Linked DNA regions of Homo sapiens: all the other regions are linked to region 1. The links come from fine-mapping of genetic effects on gene expression. A gene starts in region 1. Each other region holds a variant in brackets. All regions are shown on one strand. Distances are between the middles of the regions.

Evidence for each region.
Region 2: its variant is fine-mapped to the expression of SMIM12 in nucleus accumbens (GTEx, PIP above 0.99). The same link has a PIP of 0.9 or more in caudate and putamen.
Region 3: its variant is fine-mapped to the expression of SMIM12 in testis (GTEx, PIP 0.94).

Annotation. Positions count from the first base shown.
Region 1 is chr1:34,853,555-34,863,589 of GRCh38, forward strand. SMIM12 (small integral membrane protein 12) reads right to left here and starts at 6,195. Exons shown (of 2, transcript NM_138428.6): 1 at 6,123-6,195; 2 at 1-2,428. The coding sequence starts at 2,423. The coding sequence ends at 2,145. RefSeq lists an enhancer at 97-967 and a silencer at 6,017-6,146.
Region 2 is chr1:34,727,816-34,737,850 of GRCh38, forward strand. No RefSeq gene overlaps it. Among named protein-coding and RNA genes, the nearest start is that of GJB5, 22 kb to the right of the region's middle. The variant A/G (reference allele first, on the strand shown) is at 5,150.
Region 3 is chr1:34,793,121-34,803,155 of GRCh38, forward strand. GJA4 (gap junction protein alpha 4) reads left to right here. Exons shown (of 2, transcript NM_002060.3): 2 at 1,077-2,627. The coding sequence starts at 1,094. The coding sequence ends at 2,095. Among named protein-coding and RNA genes, the nearest start is that of GJA4, 5.1 kb to the left of the region's middle. RefSeq lists a silencer at 1,142-1,296 and an enhancer at 7,165-7,214. The variant G/A (reference allele first, on the strand shown) is at 5,341.

The DNA.
Region 1 (10,035 bases):
AAGCTTCATATAAGATATTCGTTGCAGTATCTAAACGAGTGACCAACCAGAAACAATTCAAATGTCCAGCAATATGGAAATTGTCCAGGATAAACTTATGTCATACTCCCACTTGATAGACAATTATGTTGCTATTATAAACAACTACAGCCAGGCACGGTGGCTCACGCCTGTAATCCCAGCACTTTAGGAGGCCAAGGCAGGCAGATCACAAGGTCAGAAGTTTGAGACCAGCCTGACCAACATGGTGAAACCCTGTCTCTACTAAAAATACAAAAATTAGCCAGGCGTAGCGGCGCACACCTGTAATCCCAGCTACTCAGGAGGCTGAGGCAGGAGAATCGCTTGAACCCAAGAGGTGGAGGTTGCAGTGAACCAAGATCGCGCCACTGCACTCCAGCCTGGGCAATACAGCGAGACTCCATATTTAAAACAACAACAACAACAACAACAAAAAAAAACTACAGACTGCCAGGCACGGTGCCTCACACCTGTAATCCCAGCACTTTGGGAGGCCGAGGCAGATGGGATCGCTTGAGGTCAGGAGTTCGAGACCAGCCTGGCCAAGATGGTGAAACCCCTGTCTTTACTAAAAACACAAAAACTAGCCAGGCACGATGGCGCACGCCTGTAATCCCAGCTACTTAGGAAGCTGAGGTAGGAGAATCGCTTGAACCCAGGAGGCAGAAGTTGCAGTCAGCCAAGATCACGCCACTGCACTCCAGCCCGGGTGACAGAATGAGAGTCCATCTCCAAAAAAAAAGAAAAAAGAAACTACAGGCCAAGGCCGGAGGATCACTTGAGCCCAGGAGTTTGAGACTAGCCTGGGCAACATAGTGAGACCTGGTTCTACAAAAAAATAAAAAAATTAGCTGGGCATGGTGGCATACTCCTGTAGTCCCATCTACTTGAGGAGCTGAAGTGAGAGGATCACTTGAGCCCAGGAGGTCAAGGTTGCACTGAGCCGTAATTGTACTGCACTCCAGCCTGTGTGACAGAGTGAGACCCTGTCTCCAAAAAACCAATTATGATGACCATGTAAAATGGGAAAATGATAATAGTGAGAAAAGTATATAAAATTAAATGTACAGTAATGATAACTATCTCTAAAACCTATGCAGAGAATTAGTAAAAGACAACAAAATGTTAACGGTTGTTATTAACGAGCTGGGAACATGGGTGACCTTTTTAAAATCCCTACCAAATTTTCTTGAATGTGCGTATATACTTTTATAGGGAAAGGCGTCTATGTGTGTGTATGTGAGGTCTACCTCCATTTAGACTTGAAGGTGCTGCAGCCAATTGTAATAATGGTAAAAAGGTTCCTGGGAATCTGTGCCTCCAGGGTTCAGTGCAACCGCACTAGTAAAGCAGTTTCCAGGGCTCCTTGGCACCCTTTAATACCAATGTTATCCTGCTCTAAAATGCCTGTACTTGCCTAACTCCTAAGAAGACCCCCAAATACCACCTGGATGATAAGATTCGATCATTATGGTTCTCAGATACCACTTTAATCAGGTTTTTCACTATACAGTGATGGGGGTAGAAGATGGTGACTGTTTTCAAGCAAATTCACGAGGCACATGTTCGTCCCTGCCCCAAAGTGAACAGTCTGGGCTTCCCAGAACAGAAAAGTGCTTTCCTTCCTGGGGGAATCCCATTCCTGAGCTGACAAGACAGATTTCAGTAAGAATGAGCACAAAGGATAGGGCAAAATAGTGAAGGGAGCCAGGTGCATATTTGAATTCTTTCCAGTGCAGACTGGAACTAGACATGCAGGTATCCCTCCTAAAGGCAACGCCCAAATCCCAGCCATTCCCACTAGAGGCCAAACCGCCTGCCCACAGAGATTGACAGCCAATGTTCATCTCATAACTCTCCTCCCAGCAGTGCACCAGTAAACTCAGATGCCTGAGTGCTTGTGGCCACCACACAACAGATGCGGCCTTCCTCTTCACTGGCCCCTCGGCTGCTGCTGGGTCTGCCTGGCCATCAAGGAGCAGCCAGTATTTGTGTGGCTGTGTGGTGTGGGAAGGGCCAGAATAAGCAACAAAGCCAATTAGATGTGGGTTCTGGGGCTCTGTCAACATGGTAGCAGGACAAGTCACCACCCACAGTAGGACCATAGGGCCCTGTGTCCTCCATTAATTCTTCTCTGGGCGGTTTCTGTTCAGCACAGCTTTCGGGGCAAATTCTAGCTTGTCCTTAAGGCTCACCACCTGCGTGTGGTCCTTGCCTAGAAGCTCATCCAGCTTGCGATCCTCCCGGCGCTCTGAGATGCTCTTTTCCTCCTCCACGGGCTGGGGGTCCTTTCCCCTGATGAACCATTCCAGGTGGTAACCCACAGCCCCGACCACGAAGGCAACAGGGAATGTGACATAAGGAGCATAGGTACGAACCACGGTCCAAAACACAGGCCACATGACATCTGCGGAAAAGCACAAGGCAGCATTAGAGAACCCAGCATCATCTCCCACCAAATAAGAGCAACCCACTAGAGCTCTCCACTTACCAGGCAGCCTGGCACAATTTTTTTTTTTTTTTGAGACGGAGTCTTGCTCTGTCGCCCAGGCTGGAGTGCAGTGGCACGATCTCAGCTCACCGCACCCTCCACCTCCCAGGTTCAAGCAATTATCTGCCTCAGCCTCCCAAGTAGCTGGGATTACAGCTAATTTCTGTATTTTTTTAGTAGAGACAGGGTTTCACCATGTTGGTCAGGCTGGTCTTGAACTCCTGACCTCGTGATTCACCCACCTCAGCCTCCCAAAGTGCTGGAATTACAGGCGTGAGCCACCACACCTGGCCAGCCTGGCACAATTTACTGAGCACCCACCCCCGTGCAGAGCAATGCGAGAGGTGGATCCCTGAAATAATCTAGGAAATTTCAAAAGATTCCATTGTTAGGGAAGAAGGAAGGATCTCCATTTTACGGACCGTACTCTTTGACAAGTGTGCACCAATATATGACAATGTTCCCCACAAGGGGACCTCTGAGCCTTACCTAATAGAGCTTCAAGCCTATTGTTGACCCCAGGACCTAGTCTGCCAACATTTCAAGAAGGGAAAAAGATGCCTTTCTCTGCTCTATGAAATTTCTCCATGAGCACAGCCGGCCACCTTTTCCCCATGAAACACAATCTACGATGAATCTCCTGGTTTCACAATATGAAAAGTCGTTCCTTTTCCTCATGTAAAGCATAAGGAGCATATTTAAACAGTCAAATACATAATGCATTACCTAATTATTCTGGATTTTAGGTAAATAGATAATGGTTTTATCCTGTTCTGAACCTGGCTTTTCTAACAATGGAACAAACCTATACTTTACAAATCTGCTGACTAAACCATTTTCAAAATATCCTATCTTGGCTAAAGACGGTGGCTCACACCTGTAATTCCAGAACTTTGGGAGGCTTGTAATCCCCATTACTCAGGAGGCTGAGGCAGGAGAATCACTTGAACCTGGGAGGCGGAGGTTGCAGTGAGCTAAGATCAAGCCACTGCACTCCAGCCTGGGCGGCAGAACGAAACTCCGTCTCAAGAAAAAAAAAAAAATCCTATCTTCAACCAAACCCATACCTTCATATTTACATAAAAAGCTCCTGAAAATATCACAAATCATTATACATACTCTGGATACCGCAGAACCTGAAGATTTTCTGTGAAAAATCACTGTACAAGCCCGGGGGGTGGGGTGGGGTGGGGTGGGGCGGGGAGCGGAGTGGAATGGCCTCAGGGCCTCCTGAATTGAAGTAGGGCAATACCAAAGTAATGTAAAAACACACAAATTGGATCACTCTAATGGCCAATTCCATCTCAAATGATTATTACCATTATCAATTATCAAAGATCATTCACAGTTATAATAACACAGCTACCATTTATTGAGCACTTACATGCCAGGCCTTGGGCTAGGTGCTTCATATACACTCACTCTCTTAATCCTCATGTCCACCACGTGAGGTAGATACATAACCCACTATCAGAGGGTTAAGAGACTTGCCCAAAAGTATCCACTAAAAGATCTTTCTGTTTATGCCCCTGTAGGTATTTCTCCAACACTACTATCTCTGATCTAAAGTGAACAATCGAAACCTCACCAAGGATAAGATGATTCTCCCCCTCTCTCTTTGGTTCCAATTCTCTTTGAAGGAATCCCAATGTTCTCTAGACGTAACACTATAAGGCAGCGGTCCCCAATCTATATTTGGCACCAGGGACCAGTTTCGTGGAAGACAATTTTTCCACAGATGGGGGTTGGAGAGGGATGGTTTCGGGATGAAACTGTTCCAGCTCAGATCATCAGGCATTAGATTCTCATAAGGGGCACACAACGTAGATCCCTCACATGCGCAGTTCACAATAGAGTTTGCACTCCTGTGAGAATCTAATGCCGCTGCTGATCTATCAGAAGGTGGAGCTCAGGCGGTAATGCTTGCCAGCTTGCCCACCGCTCACCTCCTGCTGTGCAGCCCAGTTTCTAATGGGCTGAAGACCACCACTGGTCTGTGGCCCAGGGGGTTAAGGACCCCTGCAATAAGGCAGCATCATGAAATTTAAAAAAAAAAAAAAAATTGCAGCATCTCCAAGACTCCCCCGCTTATTGTCTCAGCACCAGGCACTATGATGACAATTTACACACTAATCATCATTTGATCCTCATAACACCTCTATGATGTAGGAATTATTAGCCCAGACTCTTGTGAAGGCCACAAAGGCTCACAGACATTATGTTAACTTATCCAAGATCACTAGAAGTGATAGAGCCACTGATTTTGAACCCAGGCCTCTCCAATTTCAAAGCCTACACTCTTTCTAGTGGGAAGAACACACTGCAGAGGTATACGGTTTCTGTCCAAACCCTGGACTTAGGGAGAGCTTCCTACAGTTTTTTCCCATCAGCCTGGCATTTCATTACCTAGAAGAGCTTTCCTTTTCCCAAACTCTGAGATTGTACTCAGGGATTTATGAAATTCAGAGACATAGTAATAGTTAAAAGAGGCACCTCTGAAGAATCCCAAACCTAATACTTCTCCATTTTACTTCCACCTTTAAAGCAAGTCCTCTGTATAAGTAAATGCTTCCCTAAATAGCAACTGTCCGTTCAGATTTCCAAACCTGTCTTAAAACATATCGCGCATGAGTTCACAACTATCTCTCACATGCAGCATAAAGTCTCTCGCTACCGTCCTGCTCACATTCTAATCATTCCCAAATAAGTCAATTCATTCCTTTATTCGACACTTATAACCACTTACTCTGTGTCAGGCACGATGCTGGCTTACCCTGTCTGCGTTTCTCAAGACACTTTAAGCTCCAAAAGGCTAAGAACCGTGTCTGTCTGGCCCAATTATGCCCTATCCATCCAGGCACCTCTCCTACCCTGCCTGGCAGAGTGCCCAAAAAAGGTCTGCTGAACGAATGAATGACAGCCCAAACTCCCTAGTGTAAAATCACAACATCCTCCACCCACTCTCCCCCAAAAGGTGGCAGGAGCATAACAGATGCCTTTGCTGATTACAAAAACCTAAAGACTCCATCATAGTCGTCCCCAGGCAGGGTATCACAATGAAAGAGGCAAAAGTGTCTGAAAAACACTGTGACGCATATTTCCAGCCCGGCATGGAGGACGTCTGCCAAAAGCATCCGGTAAAGGTCAACTGGGCTGCTGGGAAACCTGCCCCAGTGCGAGGGCCCGGAGGCCCAACGAGGCCAGAAGCCGTAGTCCCAAATTCAAGAACTACTAACAAGGACACAGGAGGCCTGAGAAGGCGGAAGAATTAGCCCTGACAGTCACTAGAGCGCAGTCCAGGAATGGGAGCGCAAGTAAGGCGAAGGTCCATCCAAATGGCTACCCTTCTCCCTTCTGTGAGTCTCCCGGTCCCCTGTCCCTAGCCCACCTCATTCATGGCCTCATCAACGTCCGTCCTCATTGAGGTGCCGAGAAGCCCTGTCTGCGGAGGGCTACCTGGGCTCCCAGACTTGGCACCAGAACACCCGCCAGAGAGGGGAGCTGGCAGATCTGGCCGGGACCGGGGTGGACCCTAGCGATCACTCCTCCCGTAACTCAGAGGTTACTGGCCTGGGCTGACCCGACCTGCTCGCCGGGACCGCGCGCTCACCTGCGGCCCAGCCCACACTCCCCAGTGCGGCCCCCGCTCTCCGCCCGCTCGCCGGGAGCACGGAAGTCGCCGCACCCAGCGGCCCGCGGGACCTTGCCCTGTGACCCTGCCCACTGGCCGCCGGCTCTCTCGGAGCGCAGGGATTGGCTGAACTTCAGCCAAAGGACGGAAGGAAGCTAGGCGTCCGCAACTGGGCCCCACTGCGCTGAAATGGACGTCGCGCCCTCTGTTGGCCGGGAGGTTTCTCAGTGATGTCGCCACGTGTTTTCTGCGTGGAAAAAGTGAAAGATCATCCAGTCATTTTTTTCAACTGATGTTTATTAGGCGTCTTCTAAGACCTAGGTCTGGGCACGCAAAAACAAAAGACATGATCCCTGACCTCAAGAAGCTCTTCTTAGAAGAGTATATTTTAGTGCTTTAAGACCTCTTGGGATCCGGGCTAGCTTTCTAGTGACCTTGGGAACATTATTAACCTGTCTGAGCCTCCCTTCCCCTTCTGTGTAGAGGTAATAACACCCATTTCGCAAGGATGGTGTGAGGGTTGGAAGAGATAATATTTGTAAAGTACTGTGGCAGGCACACAGCCAGCAGGGAAATAAATGTGGCTATTGTTAGTGTAAAAATAATTCAAATATAGTAAAACCTAAGTCTTACATGACCTCTTGGGTACAAGTATTCACTTCCTCCTCTGTGTCCCCACTGTACCCTATACAGACATCAATTTTATCATATACAGAAAAGTCCCAAAGCTCAAGCTTGTTAATGCTCCCACAAGGCCCTTCCCACCCTCATCCCACTAATCTCAGCCTGCATATTTATTTTGCTCGCACATACTAAACCCGGCAGACCACACTGTTTCACACCTCAGTGCCTTATTGATGCTTTTTCATCTACCTTCCCACCTTTTTTGTTGTTGTTGTTCAATTTCACTCTTGTTGCCTGGGCTGGAGTGCAATGGCGTGATCTCGGCTCACCGCAACCTCCGCCTCCCAGGTTCAAGTGATTCCCCTGCCTCAGCCTCCTGAGTAGCTGGGATCACAGGCATGCACCACCACGCCCGGCTAATTTTGTATTTTTAATAGAGAAGGGGTTTCTCCATGTTGGGGAAGCTGGTCTCGAACTCCCGACCTCAGGTGATCTGCCCGCATCGGCCTCCCAAAGTGCTGGGATTACAGGCGTGAGCCACTGCGCCTGGCCGCTTTTTTTTTTTTTTTTAACAGGACTCTCGCTCTGTTGCCCAGGCTAGAGTGCAGTGGCACAATCATAGCTCACTGCAGCCTCAACCTCCTGGGCTCAAGTGATCCTCCCACTTCAGCCTTCCGAGTAGCTGGGACCACAGATGCACACCACCAGGCCTGGCTAATTTTTGTACTTTTTGTAGAGACTGGGTTTCACCATGTTGCTAGGGCTGGTCTCGAACTCCTGAGCTCAAGCAATCCGCCCGCCTCAGCCTCCCAAAGTGCTGGGATTACAGGCATGAGCCACCGTGCCTGGCCATGTAGTGCCCTTCCCACCTTTCTTTACTATGCCAGATTGTGCTCTGGCACAATTTTCAAGCTTAAGGGTCACCTCCAGAGGAAGCCTCATACATAGACTGCTTATCACATTAGACACCCTTCCTCTATTATCTCAAACAGCTCAAAGCTAAGCTCTGGCAGTGAAGATGGAGAAAAGGGAACAGTATTGTAGGGGCCAAGGTTCACTGAAAATCAACTGACAAAAGGCAGATTAATAGGAGAAAAGACATACAAAATTTTATTTTAACGTGCATAGCACGGGGCGGGGAGGCGAGGGGGTGGGAAGGGAAGGGTCACAGGAGAATGATTACCCAATAACCCAATGGGGTACAGAAGCGTATACACTCTTTTTCATAGGGGAAGGGGAGAGATGGAGAATATAGACAATTCTTCTGAGGGCAGCAAGTGATTCTTAGGGCGAAAAAATGGACAGAAATTAACTTGTAAATGATTCTCTTTAGAATTTGAATGAGCCCGAGAAACAGGCATCATCTTGTGAAAAATCCATCCAGGCGTAGTTGCCTTCCTCAGTCTTCTTTTCTGAGCTAGATGAGATTTCGGAGAGGGGAGGAAGGCAATTTTGTTTCTTTTGGAAAGACGTTTTCTCGATCAGATTAGGAAATTCTAGAGAGAGTGCCTCCCTATACTTGGGAGAGAAGGTTAGAGGGACCTTGATTCTGAGGCAGCTTCGAAGGCCTCTCAGCATGTCAAAGCGCCAGTCTTTGGGGTATCGCTTTCTGAGCCCCAACAGTACAAATAAATATTTAGGAGACCGTTGTTAGCAGAACCTGCTCACTAACTGAATATGTGGAGAGGAGAAGGGAACAGAACTGTCCAGAGTAACTGGCATTTGGTCAGCCAATCATGTGCTAGGCAATGGGGATGCAAAAATGACTGGGACCAACCTGCCTCCAGAGTTCTCTGACTAAAGAAACAGATGGGTCTACAAAATGTCAATAGAATGTAAGAAATGTGATGACAGAAGTATACACACGCAGCACAGAGGAGGATCTTCAGCCCAGCCAGGAAGATTCAGGGAAGGCTCCCTAGAGGAACCAAGCCTTGAGCTGAGTCTTGAGTCATGGCTAGCAGTTCCCTCAAGCAGAATTGCTGAGGGGCTCAGGAGCATAGACTGAGAAATCAGATAGCCATGGGTTCAAATCCTGACTCTTGTCTGCTTATCTCAGAAAAGCTATTTACACTCTTTGTTTTTAAAAAAAGACAATAATAGTACCCACTCCTAGGGTTGCTATGAGTATTAAATCACCTAAATGTGTATAAAGTGCTTGGCATAGTAGTTTGCACCTTCTCAGTGCTCAGTAAATGGTTATTGACATGTTAAGTATTTCCCAACTGTATTGCTCCTTCTGTAATGTCCTATGTCCATTCGTGGCATTACTCATTCATTAAGCCAGAAATCTGAGTGACACCTTCAAGGCGTCCCATCTTTACATTATTCTCCAGATCCAGCTTACTGCACTTATGCCTCCTAAATGTCTCTCAAAGTCAACATCATTATCTCTTACCTGGACCACTTTAGCAGCTCCCTGAATGGTCTCCCTGCTGTCTTGTTGCCCCATCCAGTCCATTTCCTTTCTTTTGGCCGTAGTTTCATCTTTCAAATAAAACTATGAGGTTTCCATCTTAGCCTCCCACCCCCAACTCTATGGGTCCCTTCTGGCCGTATCTCCTCCACGCCCTCCACAGCCACCATAACCTGTCACCCTCTCCAGCCTATGCTTTCATTCCCAACACACATGTGCTTCCATGGCTTTGCCCAGGTTGGTCCCTTGGCCAGAAATGAATTTCTCCCTTCTCTTCCTTGACTACAAAATGCTAATTCATCCTGCAAGATCCAACTCACAAGGCAGAAGGCTTTCCCAGACTGCCTGTGCTATGGTTGTACCCTCCAAAACTTACACTGAAATTTGTCATTGTATTAAGAGGTGGGACCTTTAAGAGGTTATTAGGCCATGAGGGCTGCACTCTCATGGGTGGATTGACACCCTTATAAAAGGGCAAGTTCAACTCCCTCTTGCCCTCTCTTGCCCTCTCACCTGCCATGGGATGACACAGCAAGAAGGCCCTCACAAGTTGCCAGCCCCTTGACACTGAATTCCCCAGCACCCAGAACTGTGAGCCAATAAATACCTGTTCATTATAAGTTATCCAGTCTGTGGTATTGTTATAGCAGCACAAAATGGACTAAAACACCCTGGTTGCTAGAGGCTCTCTCCTCTCAATCCCTTGGCCCCTCTGGGAGAACAGGTTTCCCTTTGCACCATAACTTTCTGTTTATATGCTGGCCATGGCCAGACTGTAAGCAACTCAAGCAAAAGGACTGGACCTAATCTTTCACTATCTATGGGGCTCAGCATAACTACCTAGGCCACAAG
Region 2 (10,035 bases), 130 kb before region 1:
AGAGAGATTTCTGGATGAAGGTCCCCTGGGTGATAGCATTTGGTGTCAATTTTGCTTTCTTCTGCATTGAAAGTGTTCAAGAATAATAATGAAGGTGCATCTATTATACCTACTCTGTGCTGCAGACTCCAGTAAATCCCTTATATATGTTAACTCATCTTATCCTAACAACAATGCTACAAAGTGAATACTGCTATTACCTCTATCTTACAGGACTGGAATACTAAGGCACACGGAGGTCAAATAGCTTGCCTACAGTTACACAGCCAGTAAGTGGCAAAGACAGGAGTCAGACCCAGGCAGCCTGGCTCCAGAGTCCGTGTGCTTAGCCATCAAGCTGTCCTACTCCACAGTGGTTAGACACTATTTCTACGAAAACAGTAAGACCATTTTTCTTATTTAAGAAAAGACCGCGTGCAGTCGTTCATACCTGTGGTCCCAGCACTTTGGGAGGACGAGGCGGGCAGATCATTTGAGGCCAGGAGTTTGAGACCAGCTTGGCCAACATGGCGAAACCCTGTCTCTACTAAAAATACAAAAATTAGCCAGGCGTGGTGATGCACAACTGTAATTCCAGCTACTAGGGAGGCTGAGATGGGAGAATAGCTTGAGCCCAGGAGGTGGAGGTTGCAGTGATCCGAGATCGCACCACTGCACTCCAGCCTGGGCGACAGAGCGAGACTCTGTCAAAAAAAAAAAAAAAAAAAAAAAAGGTTCATCAGCTTGGCTTTAAGGTGCCTTATGTTTCCAAAAGACACATCCCCAGGTCTTTGTTGATGATTCTCCTGCCTCCTTACCAGCTGGGGCATAGACAGAATTCCTACAAGGTAAGTTCAAGGGACATGACAAGACCTGGTCCAGGAAGCCCCATGGTGGAAAGGATGTTAAGGAGACCCCAGATTGTAGGCTTATCCCTTGGTGGGGTGAGAGGTCCATCCTGTGAGTCTACAGCTGACCAACGGTAAAGAAAGAGACGCCTATGGCATTCAGTTCCAAGCCCCAGACCCAGCCCATGCTTGACTCAAAGCCAGAAAAATGTGTTATGATAAATATCTGTTTCAAATGAGACCCAAATGGCTAGCAAGTGAGATCACCAGAGAGGCGGTATCAACGAATGCAGAGGTCTGAGACACAGGGTTCAATCTATGTGCATCCTTGGACTCTAGTACATCTGCAGAAGGGGTGAGGCAGGCCCACCAGGAGCTGTTGCCATGACGGAGGGAAAACTCATCAAAGGGAAAGGAAAACTGAGGTCCAAACTTGGTCCAAAGATGACCGTAGAGGAGGTTCTAGCACAGCTCTGGTGTGTCACTCCAGCTCTGGTGTGTGCTGCAGCACAACCCCAACCACCTCATCCCTGAGATCTGGCACAAGGTGGCCTCCAGCTCCTCACCTTTACAAGTTGAAGTTTGAGTTGTTTCTCTCCTACCTCCGTGGGTCTCTGCAAGCAGCTGAGCTGGGAGCAGCCCCTCAGGCCCTCAGCACACATTGTGACAAGCAGGAGTTGTGGCCCCTTCTGTCTGGGGGACACAGCTGATATGCTGGGCTTCAATAGGAACAGGAGACATCACCACAGCGACTTGGAGTATAATGAAAGGAAAGTGGTGGACACTCATGGTAGACAAAGGCACACAGGAGGGGTCCCAGAAGGTGCCCAGGGCAGCTTGGAAAGGGATTTATGGTATCAGGGTTTGCCTTGAGCAGCTAGAGGTCAAGTTGCTCATGGAGTGTGTGTAGTGTGAGAAGCAAAAGGCCCAGTGCCAATCCTCAAGCAGACAAGAAAGAAAGAGGGTATGCAAAAGAGACTAGGTCTGCAAGCCTTTGTGTCCTGGGCCTGCCCTAGTGAGGAGAGGGTCTGATTTCTTCCCACCTCCTTGTTCCCATTCCACTCCAGCCTCTACGCCTCCGCTTTCTCCACACTCAAAGAGCCTCTCTCCCCAGCTCGCTTCCCATGTCCCCATCCACCTGCACTGTTTGGGGACCCACGTCTGGGTCCTCCTTCCACTGAAGAGTCAAAGAATCAGGCAGGACTGCCAGGCTGGAGACAGAAGGGATCCTACTCTGGAAACTTTCTTTTTAAATCAGAGCAAGGAACAAATGGTTCTGCCATCCACTGGGATCACCTTGGGTTGGAAATTTAAAATGCATTAAGGTTGAAAGACCTATAAACATGACGTAACACGCTCTGCAAGCTGCTGCCTCTGTGACTTGCAGTCACAGGAGCTTCAAAGGGGACAGGCAGGCACACTCGAGGCCCACAAATGGGCACACACCCCCATACACACCCATCCCTGGAACATCCTCCTTCCATGCCTGTACACTTATGTGCATGCACTCTCCCCATAGACAGATACACACAGGTCTGTGCATATGATCCCCCAAATAGATGTGCATACACAGACCCTACACACACACTCATGCCTCATGTAGGAAGAAGTGTGCAACTACATGCAGCTCCACCCTCATGCATGAAGATACGCACTTGCTGCATCCACACATGTACACCAACTTGCACACAGTCACCCCACATACATGCACACGCCTTCACCCTGCATACACACAGACGCATACACACAAACCTCACTTATACGCGTCTCACAGAGATAAACCAGGCCTGGGCTCACCCTGAACCCGAGACAGACATTCTCACCACACACGCAGACACACACAGAGGTACACACTCACACACACTGACCCCACCCACACCTGCATGGATGTGTGCGGACATTCCTATACAGTCATCCAAATACAGACCTTCATGTGCATACACACTCACCCCACCCCAAATGGATGCATATACTTTACCCAAAGCAAAAATGTGTACAAACATCAATGCATACTCGCCCACACAGACTGTGCTCACATGCTCAGCCCACAGAGACACAACATAATCAGATAAACACTCAGCTTCCCTCCGACTTCAGCAACCATCTGGATGACCATCCGACTGCCTGGATTCTTGATTTTTTTGTTCTTAACTTTCTCTTCTCTGAAAATGGTTCCACCATTTGCCCAGTGGCTCGGGCCAAAAACCTGAGCAACTTCCTCACCCTCCACAGCCAGGCTACCTGCCATGTCTGCCTTGAAAGTATGTCTTGAGTTCAGTCAGTTCCCTCACCTCCAAAGCCATCACTCCACTCCGTGCCCCCATCTCCCCAACCCCAGGCCATTGCTATAGCTCCTCCCTGAGGTCCTTGCTTCCACTGTTACCACCTACAATCTGTGGCAGTCGGAGCAAGAGACCTTTTTGTGACATCAATTGCACTTTACATAAGTGCAGGCTCCTTACCCGAGCCTACAAGCCTACGTGATCAGACCCTGCTCCCCTCATGCCCTGCCCTCATCTCCTGCATCCCCTCCCCTTGCCCACGACACTCTCACCCATTGGCCTCCTCGCATTATCTCAGGTATACCCACCCCTCTCCTACTCAGGGCCTCTCTCCCACTGTTCCCTCTGCCCCTGACTCTTCCTATGGCCCACACTCATCTTCTAGGTCTCTGTTGAAACGTCACCTCCTCAGAGAGGCCTCCTCTGATTACTTAATCTAAATAGGACACTCCCCATTATTTTCATCCACTGGATCTTGCCTCCTGCATAGCACTTATCACCATAAGCACTTCTTTATGTTTACTGTCTGTCTTTCCCTCTAAACTTGCACTGTCCAATAGCATAGCCACTGGCCTCGTGTGACTATTTAAATTTAGATTTAAATTAACTGAAGTTAAATAAAAAAATTAATTTAAAGAATTTAAAATTCAGTTCCTGTCACACTAGCCACATTTCAAACCTGCAGTAACCACATGTGGCCAGTGGCTACTGCACTGAACACCGTGAGTTATTTCCATCGGCCCAGAAACTTCCCTTGGACAGTGCTGCCACAGACTGTAGCTTACAGAGGGCAGGGCAATGCCTCTTCTACTCACTAATGTGTACTCTGTGCCCAGCATAGGATCTGGCACATGGTAGGGGTTCAGGAAATCGTAAGTGAATGAACCCACTCATGTGCGCACAGTCATAAATGGAGATAGGCCCTTCCCTGTATCAAAGGCCTCATTCAAATGCCACTTCTTTCTTGAAGACTTCTTGTCTTCTTTCCTTTACATTTTCTTCCAATCATGATGCTTGCACCCCCATAACAGGCAAGTACTTATTATGAGCCACAGACCTAAGTTCACTGCAGGCACTTTTGCCCCACGTTGGCTGTGAGATGGAGAGGGAGGAGGAACTGTTGCGGGCCGTCTCTTCCCCCACTATCCATCTCCTTGGGCAGCAGAGGAAGGACATTAAAACCACAAGCCCTGGACACAGCCAACTCCACGGTGACACTCCAGCTCTGCCTTTTACTAGCTGTGACTTTGGACAGATTGCTGAGCCTCCTTGAGCCTAATTCTCTCATCTATAAAATGCACATCGTAATGCATACTTCATAGAACTGCTATTCGGAGTAAAAGAAATAACCTATGTCCAAGATGTTGTGCAGTGTTCCCTTTGAGGGTGTTGCAGAAGTAGGACTCATTGACATTCTACTTGCCACATACAGGGTCTGGTGAGGAAACCTCAGTTAGTTCGCAATTTATTCCAAAGATGTGTGGAATTCCATATAGGCGGGTGCTCCAGGTCACTGCCCCATGGCCTCATGATTAACTAGGCTCTGATTCTGACCTAGTGGCTGCAGCTCTGGAGCAAAACAACCGATTGCTGTATTTCCATAAATCGTTAAAATGATACTAAAATACTAATTTTTTTAAAAAGCAATCTATGATCACCACTGAACCCACACGGGGTCCTCAAATGCTGCTTTATCTGAGATGGGCCAGGATAAATAACGAAGCTTCCTCCATCTTTCTGACTTCAGTCTCTCCAGGTATAATGATGGAGGGCAAGGTCCTGGCCAGAATAAATTATCAGGGAGGAAGGAGCAGGGCCCATGAGGAAGTAGCGTGTATTGGTCCGTTCTCACACTGCTGATAAAGACATATCCAAGACTGGGCAATTTACAAAAGAAAGAGGTTTATTGGACTTACGGTTCCATGTGGCTGGGGAGGCCTCACAATCATGGCAGAAGGTGAAAGACCCATCTCACATGGTGGCAGACGAGAGAAGACAGCTTGTGCAGGGAAACTTTGCTTTTTAAAACCATCAGATCTC[A/G]TGAGACTTACTCACTGTCATGAGAACAGCACGGGAAAGACCTGCCCTCATGATTCAGTTACCTCCCACCAGGTGCCTCCCACAACACGTGGGAATTCAAGATGAGATTTCAGTGGGGACACAGCCAAACCATATCAGAGCTGGCTCAGGAAGAAGGAGGAGGAAATCAGAGGGAATTTAGCTATCAGGCAAAATCCAGCAGCGTGCAGTGGTGAATTCATGGGTTCTGATGCCAAACTGCCTGGGTCCAGTCCGGCTCCGTTCATCACTGTGAGACCTTGAACAAGTTGTTTATCCTCTCTGTGCCTTTGTCTGTGAAGCAGGGTTAATGATAATACCTACTTCAATGGGTTGTTTTAAAGAGTAAATTCTTTAATATATATAAAGTGCTTAGAAAGTTGCCTGGCACATGTTAAGATGTCAAGTTCTTTTTTTTTTTTTGGAGACAGTCTCACTCTGTCACCCAGGCTAGAGTGCAGTGGTGCAATCTCAGCTCACTGCAACCTCCACCTCCCAGGTTCAAGCGATTCTCCTGCCTCAGCCTCCTGAGTAGCTGGGATTACAGGTGTGCACCACCACGCCCGGCTAATTTTTGTATTTTTAGTAAAGACAGGGTTTCACCATGTTGGCAAGGCTGGTCTTGAACTCCTGACCTCAAGTGATCCACCCACCTCACTCCTGACCTCAAGTTATCCACCCACCTCTGCCTCCCAAAGTACTGGGATGACAGGTGTGAGCCACCACGCCCAGCCACATGTTAAGTTCTTAATGAGGGTTGGTTAAGTAAATTGGTGAAGAGAGTGGGGAAGGCTGAGAACTGGGTCTGGGGAACCTCCCTATACCTTTTCCACTCTCTTCTCTCCTAAGTCCCCTAACCAAACCTTCTTCCCATTTTCTTTGAAGTCCTCTCCACCACCTGATCCCAGGTAGACTCCATCAGAGACCCAAAGTGGCTCTAAAGGGAACACAGTGGCTGAAACAGGGGGAAGACATCCAGCTCTGCATCTTCACTATCGCCCAGGGTGAGGGAATTAAAACAACATTAAGAGGACTTGGAAGGGTCTCAATGAGGGCCAGGAGGTGCTCAGCATGCCTTATACATGAATACACCTTTGTTTAATTGGAAATCTTAGTGCAGCATATCCCTCTCTGAGTAGACTTCAGGCAGCTGTGATTCAGATGTTTCTAAAATACTGAAAAAATGCTGGTACTACAAAAATTGCCTGCATTTCAGTGCATAACAACACTACAGTGTACCAGAACTCCCAAATATTAAATGTTAAGAAGTCTTAGAATCCCCTTATCACTCCCAGAGTTCAGAGTGAAGAGCTGTTGGGAACAGAAACCATGGTCTGTCCATGGAGGCAAACCCTTGATGTTGTGGAGCCTGGGGGGGCCAGGGGTGTGGGGCAGTGGGATAGGGGAGAAAGAAGAATGTAGACAGAAAGAGAATAAATCATCAGAAAGAACAGATGGGGTATCAGGCCTGCAGTAGACAGGATCACAGCCCCCCAAAGATGTTCCCATTTTAATTCCTAGAATTTGTGACTGTTACCTTATAGGGCAAAAGAGACTTTGCAGGTATGATTGAGCTAAGGATCTTCAGATGAGGAGTTTCTACTGGATTCTCTGAGTGGCCTGAGAGGGAGGCTGGAGGGCCAGAGTCAGAGGAGATGTGATGATTGAATCAGAGGTCGGAGTGATGCGGAACCACAATCCAAGGATTGCGGGAAGCCTCTAGAAGATAGAAAAGGCAAGGAAACAGATGATCTCCCAGAGCCTCCAAAATGAACACAAACTGTGGCCCATTTTAGACTTCTCACCTCCAGAACTGTAGGATATTAAATATGTTACTGTTTTACATCATAACATTTGTGGCAATTGGTTACAACAATAGGAATCTAATACAGGATCCATAACAGACATGAGGGCAATTAACTCAACAAATATTTCTTGAAGGTCTGCTATGAGCCAGGCACTGCTCTGGGCATGGAGAAAAGAGCAATGAAAAAGGAGACAAATCCCTCTTTCTTGGAGCTTTCATTCTAGTGGGAAGAGACAGGTAGTAAATGAGTTACATAGGATAATTTCAAATAGTTAAAAGTACATGAAATTCAGTAGCTATTTTTATTCTTGCATTTGAGGGACCAATGGCACACCCAGGTGGACAGTTTCGACAGTCAGTTGGACTTTCGGCCCGGCTATTTCAAGAGTGGTTCAACTGCCATTTTACTGAACACCTACTATGTGCCAGACACTGTACTGGGCTCTCTCACATTGGCTAGCTTCTCTCAGCTTCCTAATAGTGGAGCTCTTAAGAATTTGGGGCCCCGGATGCCAAGATGAATAATTTATATCAGGCACCTAAAGGGCTGCATCATCTGGCCCACTATGTGTCACTGACACAAGCAGGAAGGATCAGAGCTGTCTGTCACCCCAGTTTTTCCTATAACTTATATCATAGGAGGCACTTCCTATGTGCCAGGCACTGCTCTAAACATTCCACGTGTATTATCTCATTATATCCTCACAAGACCCTTGAGAAATGGGTTCTGTTTTCATTCCACATTATAGCCAGGAGCACTGAGGCCCAGCCAGGCAGAGCTGGATTTTTTTTTTTTAGATGGAATCTCACTTTGTTTCCCAGGCTGGAATGCAGTGGCATGGTCTCAGCTCACTGCAACCTCTGCCTCCTGGGTTCAAGCGATTCTCCAGCCTCAGCCTCCCAAACAGCTGGGATTACAAGCGTGCGCCACTGCACCCAGCTAATTTTTGTATTTTTAGTAGAGACGGGGTTTCGCCATGTTGGCCAGGATGGTCTCGATACCCTGACCTCGTGATTCCCCCACCTCAGCCTCCCAAAGTGCTAGGATTACAGGCGTGAGCCACTGCACCCAGCCCAGATCTGGAATTTGAACCCAGACAGGGAGACTCCAGGGACTACTACCCTGCACTGCTCCATTGCTGGCACTTGGAGGACCAGCAGCCTTCCCTTGATGCAGGCCTCTTTGGAGAGAGGGAAACAGACAGAGGCCGCGCCTGTCTGTTTGCAGGCAAACAGAGGTTGCAGGCAGCGTGATGCCATGGGAAGAGAGCCAGCTTGAAAGCGAGGGGGACACGAGGTGACGGCCTGGCTCTATCCCTCTACCCCTTACTGAGGGACAGACCATAAGGAAGAACTTCAGATTCGCTAAGCCTCCGCTTCCTTTTGAACAGAGATCTTCATTCATTCATTCATTCAACAAATATTTACTGAGAGCTTTTCATGTGCCACACACTGTCTTCACGAATGTGATGTTCTAGCTAGGAAGACAGACAAGAAAACAAGTGACCAGACAAATAAAATAACCGCAAGCCGTAATGAGCACCACGCAGGGAGGTAGCCAGGGGCTTTGGGGAGAAAGCTGGGTGAGGGCCTATTGTGGATAATAACAGCGGTCACCTGGAGGGTCAGAAGGAGCCAGCCGCATAGAGAAGAGCAAGCATTCTGGGCAGACAGAAGAGCGTGTGCAAGAATCCCAAGAAGTTTGGGAACTGAGGGAGCCCAGTGTGGCTGCAAGCAGTGAAGAGACCATAGGCGATCCTAGTCCCTCTTCCTGGCTTATCGTGAGTATGAAAGAGGGCTGCACACATGTAGTAGACACTTAATAAATGTGAGATCTCCTCCTCTCTCCCCCAGGCTGGGTGCCACCGGGCCAGAAAGAGGCTCCTTCCCAGGGGTGGGGCAACACTCCTAGCCATCTTCAGCCACGAAACCCTAACAGCTCCTCGGGGTCCCCAAGCTCCAAGCCTCTCTTGCCACCATCAAAGCACACACTTTCTCCCTTTGTCTAATTATTCCTAATTGGAAGAAAAATTGTTTGGCAAATCAACTGGCATCTCCTCGGCTCCGGTGTCCTAGCAACCCAGCTCTCAAGGGGTGACACCAGAGAGGAGGCGCCTGCCGCCTCCACACTGCACAGAGTGCCAGGGAAGGGCAGGCATGACAGCTACACCCCCAGACTGGCGTCTCCTCTCTCCTTGGCCCCTCGGTGCTGCACCCCGCATGCACATGCAGTCGTGCACACACACACACACCCACCCCCCCAACAGAGGCCACCAGCACTTGACCTGCCTGAAACATAACCTCAGCCTTTCTGGAAAGCAGAAGGTGTCTCAGAAATAGATTTCTAATTTTCCAGCCACCTGCTCGGCTGAAAGATATTCTGGAGTTTATAATTACTTTTCAAGCACTTAACTAGAGCCTAGTTTCTAGGGCAGCTTGATGCATCTCCTAATGTTCTCCTAATGTTTATGGGGAAATCTCACCCTTCTGCTCAGCCAGGGTAGCAGGAGAGTGGCCCAGGCACGTCCCAGGGAAGGGCGCTGCCTCCTGAGCTCGGGCTTTGTAAAGATAGCAATACTGCCCTTGCGGGGTCTGAGGAAGGAGTCAATGAGATAATGCGGGTACAGCTCCTGAACAGGACACCGGAAGTCGAAGAAGTTCTCAGAGACTATTTAACAGTGGTTCTAACGAAAACAGGCTGCATGGGCCAAGCGCGGTGACTCACACCTGTAATTCCAGCACTTTGGGAGGCCAAGGCGGGTGGATCACTTGAGGTCAGGAATTTGAGACCAGTCTGGCCAACATGGTGAAACCCTGTCTCTACTAAAAATACAAAAATTACCCGGGTGTGGTGGTGGGCATTGGTAATCCCAGTTGCTTGGGAGGCTGAGGCAGGAGAATTGCTTGAACCCCAGAGGCAGAGGTTGCAGTGAGCTGAAATCACACCACTGCACTCCAGCCTGGGTGACAGAGTGACACTCAGTCTCAAAAAAAGAAAAGAAAAGAAAAGAAAAAAAAAGAAGAAGAAAAAAGAAAACAGACACAGACAGCATGGCCTTCA
Region 3 (10,035 bases), 60 kb before region 1:
GGGAGGAGTCTTGGGTCCTCCGATGCCGGGACGGGGGTTGCTGCGGAACGCCCGCCGCGACAGAGCCGCGCTCACCCAGGTGGCCTTGGCCAGGCTCCCACCCTCTTTCCATGGAATCCTTGTAACAACCCGAGGCGGGAGGAATACTATTGTTTCCACTCTATCGTGGAGGAGACTGAGGGGCCCAGAGGTTGTTCCTTATCCAAGGGGCCGCAGTTACTAAAAGGCAAGATTTGAACCCAGGGCCGCTTCCAGAGCCTGGCTCTAAACAGCTTTGCACTTGGGAAGAGGCACCTCCCCCTTGGGAACTTTGTGGCCTGTGCCTCACCCTGCAATGACAATTCCTTTCAAGAGTCTAGAATTTGCCAGCATCAGCTTTGGAGGTGGAAGGGGGTGGGAGTGGAGGTGGAGGAAGAAGACAGGACCAAATGTCCCTCCTCAAGTGGCAGGTGGTCATTATTGCTGACCGGTGGAGCTAAAGGATGATGCTGCCTTCAGCTCCTAAAACCCCTTCCACTACCCAGCCCCTGCAGGCTCAAAGATTAGAGTGAAGCCAGCTGGGTAAGATATGAGGCGGGGAGCAGGGACCTGAGGCTTTGAGCCCCCTAAGAAGCAGAAGATAACACCTCTACCATCATCACTAGCTCCCACTGTCTGGGGGTAGCCAGCCTTGGGCAAAAGGGAGGAAGGGCTTAGCCCAGCTGCACAACTTTGGATAAGTTCCTCAAATTCTGTTCCCATAGGCAAAGGAGCCTCAACTCCACCCAGATTTCCTTGGCCTGTGTCCATCCTGGGGCAGTGGCTCGGGGACAAGAGGGACATAGATGTCTGATTAGGCAGGGACCTTAGCCAAAGCAGAATGAGACCATACAAAGAGGTGGGCAGCCATCATCCAAAAATCTGGGTTGGGTCCTGCCTGCACTGCTGAGTGGGAGCCTCCAGGCCAGTCCTTCCCCTTCCTGAGCCTGGGTTTCTTTGTAGGTAGAACGGGCGTGGCAGACCTCCCTGCAGGCTTGTTGCTGGGCGAACGAGAAGGATGCCATGCTGACACACTGACGTGCTCTGTCTCCTTGCAGACGGAGGCCCGGGAGCCATGGGTGACTGGGGCTTCCTGGAGAAGTTGCTGGACCAGGTCCAGGAGCACTCGACCGTGGTGGGTAAGATCTGGCTGACGGTGCTCTTCATCTTCCGCATCCTCATCCTGGGCCTGGCCGGCGAGTCAGTGTGGGGTGACGAGCAATCAGATTTCGAGTGTAACACGGCCCAGCCAGGCTGCACCAACGTCTGCTATGACCAGGCCTTCCCCATCTCCCACATCCGCTACTGGGTGCTGCAGTTCCTCTTCGTCAGCACACCCACCCTGGTCTACCTGGGCCATGTCATTTACCTGTCTCGGCGAGAAGAGCGGCTGCGGCAGAAGGAGGGGGAGCTGCGGGCACTGCCGGCCAAGGACCCACAGGTGGAGCGGGCGCTGGCGGCCGTAGAGCGTCAGATGGCCAAGATCTCGGTGGCAGAAGATGGTCGCCTGCGCATCCGCGGAGCACTGATGGGCACCTATGTCGCCAGTGTGCTCTGCAAGAGTGTGCTAGAGGCAGGCTTCCTCTATGGCCAGTGGCGCCTGTACGGCTGGACCATGGAGCCCGTGTTTGTGTGCCAGCGAGCACCCTGCCCCTACCTCGTGGACTGCTTTGTCTCTCGCCCCACGGAGAAGACCATCTTCATCATCTTCATGTTGGTGGTTGGACTCATCTCCCTGGTGCTTAACCTGCTGGAGTTGGTGCACCTGCTGTGTCGCTGCCTCAGCCGGGGGATGAGGGCACGGCAAGGCCAAGACGCACCCCCGACCCAGGGCACCTCCTCAGACCCTTACACGGACCAGGTCTTCTTCTACCTCCCCGTGGGCCAGGGGCCCTCATCCCCACCATGCCCCACCTACAATGGGCTCTCATCCAGTGAGCAGAACTGGGCCAACCTGACCACAGAGGAGAGGCTGGCGTCTTCCAGGCCCCCTCTCTTCCTGGACCCACCCCCTCAGAATGGCCAAAAACCCCCAAGTCGTCCCAGCAGCTCTGCTTCTAAGAAGCAGTATGTATAGAGGCCTGTGGCTTATGTCACCCAACAGAGGGGTCCTGAGAAGTCTGGCTGCCTGGGATGCCCCCTGCCCCCTCCTGGAAGGCTCTGCAGAGATGACTGGGCTGGGGAAGCAGGTGCTTGCTGGCCATGGAGCCTCATTGCAAGTTGTTCTTGAACACCTGAGGCCTTCCTGGTGCCCACCAGGCACTACGGCTTCCTCTCCAGAATGTGGCTTTGCCTGAGCACAGACAGAGTCAGCATGGAATGCTCTTGGCCAAGGGTACTGGGGGCCCTCTGGCCTTTTGCAGCTGATCCAGAGGAACCCAGAGCCAACTTACCCCAACCTCACCCTATGGAACAGTCACCTGTGCGCAGGTTGTCCTCAAACCCTCTCCTCACAGGAAAAGGCGGATTGAGGCTGCTGGGTCAGCCTTGATCGCACAGACAGAGCTTGTGCCGGATTTGGCCCTGTCAAGGGGACTGGTGCCTTGTTTTCATCACTCCTTCCTAGTTCTACTGTTCAAGCTTCTGAAATAAACAGGACTTGATCACAAGTAGGTGTGTATTGATGCTATCATGATGTGCTGGGGGTTGGGGGATAGAGTTATTTTGCCCAGGCTTCCTTTACTTCTTGGTCCTGTATAATCTCTTTGGTCTCTATAACCCCCGATTCCAGCCAACACCTTGAACCCTCAAACTCATACCTTCTGCCTCCAACAGCCCTGATTTCTAAATGCTCTGCCTTTTGAAATGCCTCAGACACTATCTTCTTTTCATCCCCACTGCTCCAGCGCATTAATCAGTGGTCAAAGCATAAACGTCCTTGCCCTCCCTCCCCCATGCCCATCGTCGCCCTGGCCACACTGCCCCCTGCAAAGTGCTTCCTTACTGGATGGTTTGCTCTCCAAGCGTGCCTGCCAGCCAAGCCCTTCGCAGTCCAGTTCAGATGGGCCCTGCACTCATCCCACCTCATCCTCATCCTTGGTATTTGGGAAGGGAGGTTTAGGTCACTAGTCCTTCCTACCTTGGCCCTTTCTAGTCTGCCCACCAGGAGAAGCAACTGAAGGATTTGCTTCATATCTGCTCTCCATGCACCCAGACCTCAGTGAGGACAATGGCAATGTACAGAAGTGGAAGAGACTGAATCTTGCCAATGAGCCACAAAGGCTGCAGAAACAAAATGAACAATTGAACTGGGTCTTGACTAGGAGTTCACTGGGGAGGGAAAGAGAACACTGAGCATTCAAGCGGAGAAAACTGTTTGTGCAAAGTCAGAGGAGGGATTGACAGGCTGAGGGGGCATTTAGGTCCTGATGAGCCACCTAGATACAGGAGGCGTGGCTGAGGATGGGCCCACTGCTGGCAGAATTGACCTATGTGGAGGCGACCCAGGTAGGGGAGAGCACTAGGTAGTGACCCTCAGAGGCAAGCTGGTTGTCCTCCCTTCCCAGGGACATCTGGGGCTAGGGTTGAAGAAGGAAAGGGGGTCTCTCTGATGTGGCCACATGCTTCTCCTTGAGAGCCACAATGCCTTCACAGCAGGTTGGCAAGTTGGCCCCTCTCCCATCAGGATGGGTGTTGAAAACACCAGCTCTGTACCCCTCATCCAGAGCTCATTCGCTCACTCGCTGCTTACCCAGCGAGTCTGAATGCTCAGCCTAATAAATTACGACCCTCTTCCTTTTCCAGCTGTGGTTCCCATTGTTCCCTCTGAATCGCTGAAATCGATCAGGCCAGCTTCCTCATGGCTCCCAGATTCACCCAGTATGTTCCCACCCTGCCCCTGTGTCAGCATGCAGCGTCCCTGCCCCCCACACTTCGAAACTCCACAAATCCTTTAAATACTACTGGACCCTGGAAAAGGGCTTGGTGCGGAAGAGTGAGATGAGCTTATCACCAGAGGGCCCTGAATTTAAATGCTGTGGTCTGGAGTCAATCATTTCGCTTCTCTGAGTCTCAGTTTTCTAACCTCTAAAATGCAAATAACATCACCTGCCTCACAACTGACTGGAAACCAAATAAGTGAAAGTATGTGACTGTGCCTGGCTCAGTAGTCATGCAGTAAAATTAAGCTCACACCTTTCAGCCAGACTAACATAGGCTCTTCCTCCAGGAAGCGCTCTCTGACTTCTCCAGCTAGTCTCCGGCAATGACCTCTACCTCTCAGGGATCTGAACCACTGCTTGATTGAGTGAGGCTGGGCTCAATCCTGAAAGCCTCAAAAAGGAGGCTGTTCACATACTGGAAGTCCATGACCACTGGAAGTTGAGGTCCCTGTCTAAGAGATTCTCCTCCAGCCAGGGTGAGAGGCCAGAGGCTGCAGGTTAGAAGCCAGCGTTAGAGCCAGCATTACCTGAGGGGCTTCAGAGCCCTGGTTTGGTGTTTCTGTTATCCCCAACCTTTCCTACTTTGGAAAGGTAGGAGAAGAAAGGTTTCAGTGAGCAGAAATGGCATCCTTCCCCTCCCTCAAAGCTCACCCACTCTGAGCTTGGTGTCAGAGCCGGGGTCAGGCTGGGGCTCAGGAACTTGGACCTTTGGCAAGACAAGTTGGGTCCTAGACTGGCGGCCACACAAACACAAGCACATATGGGCTGGGGGTTTAAGAGTGAGGACAGTGTCATGGGGCTGGGATCACACCATTTGGGTTGGGGGTATGGTGAAGACTTTATGGAGAGAAGAGTGGCTGTAAGCCCCATCCCACCTGTATTCCCTTGCCAAGGCTACTGTACCAAAGTACCACAGACTGCACGGCTTAAGCAACAGAAACTGATTCTCAGTTCTGAAGGCCAGAAGTCTGAGATCGAGATATCCGAAGGGCTGGTTCCTTCCGAGGGCTGTGAGGGAGACTGTTCCAGGCCTCTCTCCCAGCTCTGGTGTTTTGCTGGCAATCTTTGGCACTCCTTGGCTTTTAGACGCATCACTCCCATCTCTGCCTTCATCTTCACCTGGTGTTCTCCCTTTACCTGTGTCTCTGTGTCTAAATTTCCCCTCTTTATAAGGACATCACTCATATTGGATTAGGACCCACCCTAATGACTTTGATCTAACTTGATTACCTCTGAAAAGACCTTATTTCCACATAAGGTTACATTCTGAGGCATTAGGGGTTAAAACTTCAATATATCTGGCAGGAGGCACCATTCAACCCATACCACCACCCTCGTGGCCCCACCTCACCTCCAAGCACTGGTCAGGCACGGGGCTCTGGAGAATGCTAGGTTTGTTGGACGCAGGCATCTCCTTGGTGATGTCACTAGGATGAAACAC[G/A]GCAGGTTCACACCTTTCTTTTCCTTTGTTTCCTTCTTCCTCTCACCAGCCTATCCCTTGCTGCCACCAACCAAAATCTAAGTTGACAGCTAGTGGCTCTCAGTTAGAGAAAGAGCCATCGTTTGGAGTTAGGAGACTTGGCTCCTACCTCACACCTCTCATACGCACTTGACTATGGCTCTTTCCCTTCTCTAGGCCTCAATTTCCCCATTGTGAAATGAAAGGGTTGGATGAGAAACACGTATGTGACAATTAGGTATGAGGAGCGTTGCGTGTGGTAACCTGTCACTGATCATTGATCTGAAACTCATGAGTGATGTGCTATTTCGCATGAATCAGAAAAAAGTCAAGGTTGTTTCTACAATAAGATTAATTCCAGTCGCTTAAATTCACATTGCCTTCCTAAGTAGGAAAGACAGGGATGGGGTTATGTGGAGTGCACTGGGAATTTTGCATAACCCAAGGTCATCTTATCTATGACGGATGGGAGCATGAGAACATCACGGGCTGCACATAAACAAGGCTGTCAAGCTGGGTGATGTCAAAACTTCTTCCCAGTCTAACATGCTGGCTCACTGGCCACTGGCTTGCCAGCCTCATGGTTCTATCACCTCCAGTTCCTTGACTGGGGATTCTTCGTTTTCACACCAACCTCAGCATGACTATTGACGTTTGCAGGAAGAGGTATCCATCACAGGATTGTCAGAACATCTCTCTCCACCTTTAAGAATCTCTCTCCAGACTTGGCTCTGATCCCAGAGCCACAGGACACCCAGTTCTGTCCTTCCCAAACAGTACTGCAGCCACATACAGACAGCCACCAGGTTCAGCCTGAGCCTGCTCTCCTCCTATTCCTCCAGATAATCCTGATTTCCAGAAGTCTCTGGCCAACCTGCAATTTGTTTACTTTCCTCTTTTTTTTTTTTTTTTTTTTTTTTTGAGACGAAGTCTCCCTCTGTTGCCCAGGCTGGAGTGCAGTGGCAGGATCTTGGCTCACTGTAATCTCTGCCTCCTGGGTTCAAGCAATTCTTGTGCCTCAGCCTCCCCAGTAGCTAGGATTACAGGTGTGAACCACCACGCCTGGCTAATTTTTGTATTTTTAGTAGAGATGGGGTTTCACCATGTTGACTAGGCTGGTCTCAAACTCCTGACCTCAGGTGATCCACCTGCCTCGGCCTCCCAAAGTGCTGGGATTACAGGCGTGAGCCACCATGCCTGGCCTAATTTCCTCTTAACATATGCCACCCTCCCTGTATGCTGGATACGACACTCCAGTTGGTCCGAATCCAGATTATTGCCTCTCTTGCCCCAAAACTTCTACCTCTCTTAATGCAACCTAAGATTATAATTTTTTTTATTTTCTCCTCCTTTACATATATATAAATTCTTTTGAATTATAAAGATAATGCATGATCATTGTAGACAGTGAATGAGATCCTACCATCCAGAGGCAACAACTGTTAATATTCAGAAGTAATTCCCTCCAGCCTTCTTCCATGCATATTTTAAAATAAAATCTTAGTAAAGATATACCTACAATTTTATATTATGCTTTTTTCATTTTATGATAAATCATTAGTTTTTTCCCATGTCGTTAAGAACATATTTTTGGAAATACCACTTAAAGGCTTTATCAGTGCCTACTTAAACCATGACCCTGATATTGGATTTTTAGGATGTTTGCAACTAATCATCCTCTACTATAAATGGTACTGTGATGCAGATGTCTGTACCTAAATGTTTTCCAAATTTCTATTTCCTTAAAAGAAAAAGATATTCCAAGAAGTAAAATTACTGGGTCACAAAGTAGGAAATCTTAAATAAAGAAAATTTAGGGGCTTTTATCTGATTGTGAAAGTGATTCATTGTGGGTGACTCAGAAACACAGAAAAGCACAAATTACAAGAAATGAAAGCACAAACTGCCTCTGAGTGGGAATTGGGGTGGAGCTGAAAACAGGAGAGTTCATTGAAAGCACCTCGGCCTGGGGATTCCATCCCTGCACTGAGCAGCTAGGTGACCACATCTTCCCAACTCTGTGAAGAGGTGGAGGTTTATTCTCTGGAGAGGATAAAACAGAGAAATGCAGCCAGGTGCAGTGGCTCACGCCTGTAATCCCAGGCGGGAGGCGGAGGCGGGCGGATGTCTTGAGGTCAGGAGTTCGAGACCAGCCTGGCCAACATGGCGAAACCCCATCTCCACTAAAAATAGAAAAACTAGCCAGGTGTGGTGGTGTGCACCTGTATTCCCAGCTACTCGCACTCCAGCCTGGGTAACAGAGCGAGACCCTGTCTCAAAAAAAAAAAAAAAAAAAAATCGAGAAATGCCAGGCATAATTGAGGGTAGGAGCACCATAAATAAAACAGAGGAATTAAGTGGAAGTTTACATACTGAACAGTGGGTCCTTCTGCCTTCTCCCCAAAATTGGCTTCCAAAACACTGGCTGATGGATCAGGCTTTGAAAAAAAAAAAGAGAGAGAGAATCTGATCTAGCCTGAGGTCATAGAAGCCTGCCTGCAGGAGGTGGGCTTCAGAAAGCCTAAAACGTGAGAAGGAATGAGCTAGGAAGAGATGGGGAAGAGCATTCCAGGTAGACGGAATAGCACTTTCAAGGCTCTGAAGAAGGAGGAAGGGGCTTGATATATTTGTTGTTCAGGGTTGTTTTTGATACAGACTGCCAAGCTGCTTTCCAGAAAAAAAAATTACTTATTCGTTCAATAGCATTGTATGAAAGTGCTCATTTCAAGGTATGCATACAAGCATTATTGTAATTTTTAAATTGCTTTGCCTATTATTAATTATTAAACAGGGAAAAAATGGTATCACGTTTCATGAGGGAGGCCTGATTACTAGTGAGTGTAGACTTCTATGTGTGTGTGTGTGTGTGGCAGGTCTTACTCTGTTTCCCAGACTGGAGTGCCGTGGTACAATCTCAACTCACTACAACCTCCATCTCCCAGGCTTAAGCAATTCTTGTGCCTCAGCATCCCTAGTAGCTGGGATTACAGGTGCGTGCCACCATGCCGGGCTAATTTTTGCATTTTCTTGTAGAGATGGGGTTTCACCATGTAGCCTAGGCTGGTCTCAAACTCCTGGACTCAAGCAATCCACCCGCCTCGGCCTCCCAAAGTGCTGGGATTACAGGCATAAGCCACCATGCCTGGCTAGTGAGGGTAGATTTTTTAACGTATACTTCTTCAGCACTTATGTTTGTTCTATGAATGTTTTTTGCCCATTTTTCTATCAGGTTTTACTATTTTCTGATCAACTTGTATAAACTCTTTATAGGTAGAGGATATCAACCCTTCATCTGGCATATGTTATAAAAATTTTTCTGTATTATTTTGTTCCTTTGTCTGCAGATATTTTTAATTTCTATGTAGTCAAATTTATGGACTTTTTTCCTTTCCAGTAACTTTAGGCTTACACTGTTATCCCCTTTTCAATATTATTTTTAATTTTATACTTTAACCTGGCTTGAACATAATAGGAGAAAAATAATTATTGAACAAAAGACAAAGCATGAACAAACAACCTAATTTTAGCATATAAGGTGAAGTGCTAACTTTTCCCCCCAAATAATCAATGGTTTTGGCAGCACTTATTGGATAATCCTTCCTATACTAATTTGTGATAACAGCTTCACTATACTATATGTAACAGACTACATTTTATAGACTACCTATAATTCTGTTCCATTAATCTGTCAATTTATGTGATACTACCACTCTTTTCATTAGTGTAGCTTTCTAACACAATCTTTTCGGGGTTTGGTTTGGTTTGGTTTGGTTTGGTTTGGTTTGGTTTGGTTTGGTTTGGTTTGGTTTGGTTTGGTTTGGTTTGGTTTGGTTTGGTTTGGTTTGGTTTGGTTTGGTTTGGTTTGGTTTGGTTTGGTTTGGTTTGGTTTGGTTTGGTTTGGTTTGGTTTGGTTTGGTTTGGTTTGGTTTGGTTTGGTTTGGTTTGGTTTGGTTTGGTTTGGTTTGGTTTCGAGATAGGATCTAGCTCTGTTGCCCAGGCTGGAGTGCAGTGGTGCGATCTTGGCTCACTGCAGTCTCCACCTCCTGTACTCAAGCCATCCTCCCACCTCAACCTCCCCAGTAGCTGGAACCACAGGCACACACCACTATGCATGGCTAATTTTTGTATTTTTGTGTGGAGACGGGGGTCTCACTATGCTGCCCAGGCTGGTCTCGAACAACTGAGCTCAAGCAATCACCCATCTCGGCCTCCCAAAGTGCTGGGATTACAGGCATGAGCCACCACACCCTGCATGTAATACAGTTTTAGTATCTGGTAGAATCCATTTCCCTTTTGTTACTTATACTTTTCTTGAGAATCCTGGAAGCCAGGTATGTATTTTCTATGCAAGTGTTTGGAAGAGTGTTGCCAGTGGATCTGACAGATCCAAAGGAAAAAACCTAAAGATATGGGCACCAGGGGCTGTCCAAGGAAATAGACAGCTAGATGGCCACACAATGAAAATCACAGTAAGGAAGTCCTAATCATGCATACAGATCGTCCAAACAGCTTTTTTTTTCTCCATTAAGTTGGGTTTTTATTTGCCTACTGCAATGGTTAGAGTGTCCAAAACAAATGTTTTGTTTGTATTTGTTGAACAGAGTTTATCTTCTAAATATTCAAAAATACTCTTCTAGAATATTTTTAGGTTCACAGCAAAACTGAGCAGAAGATAAA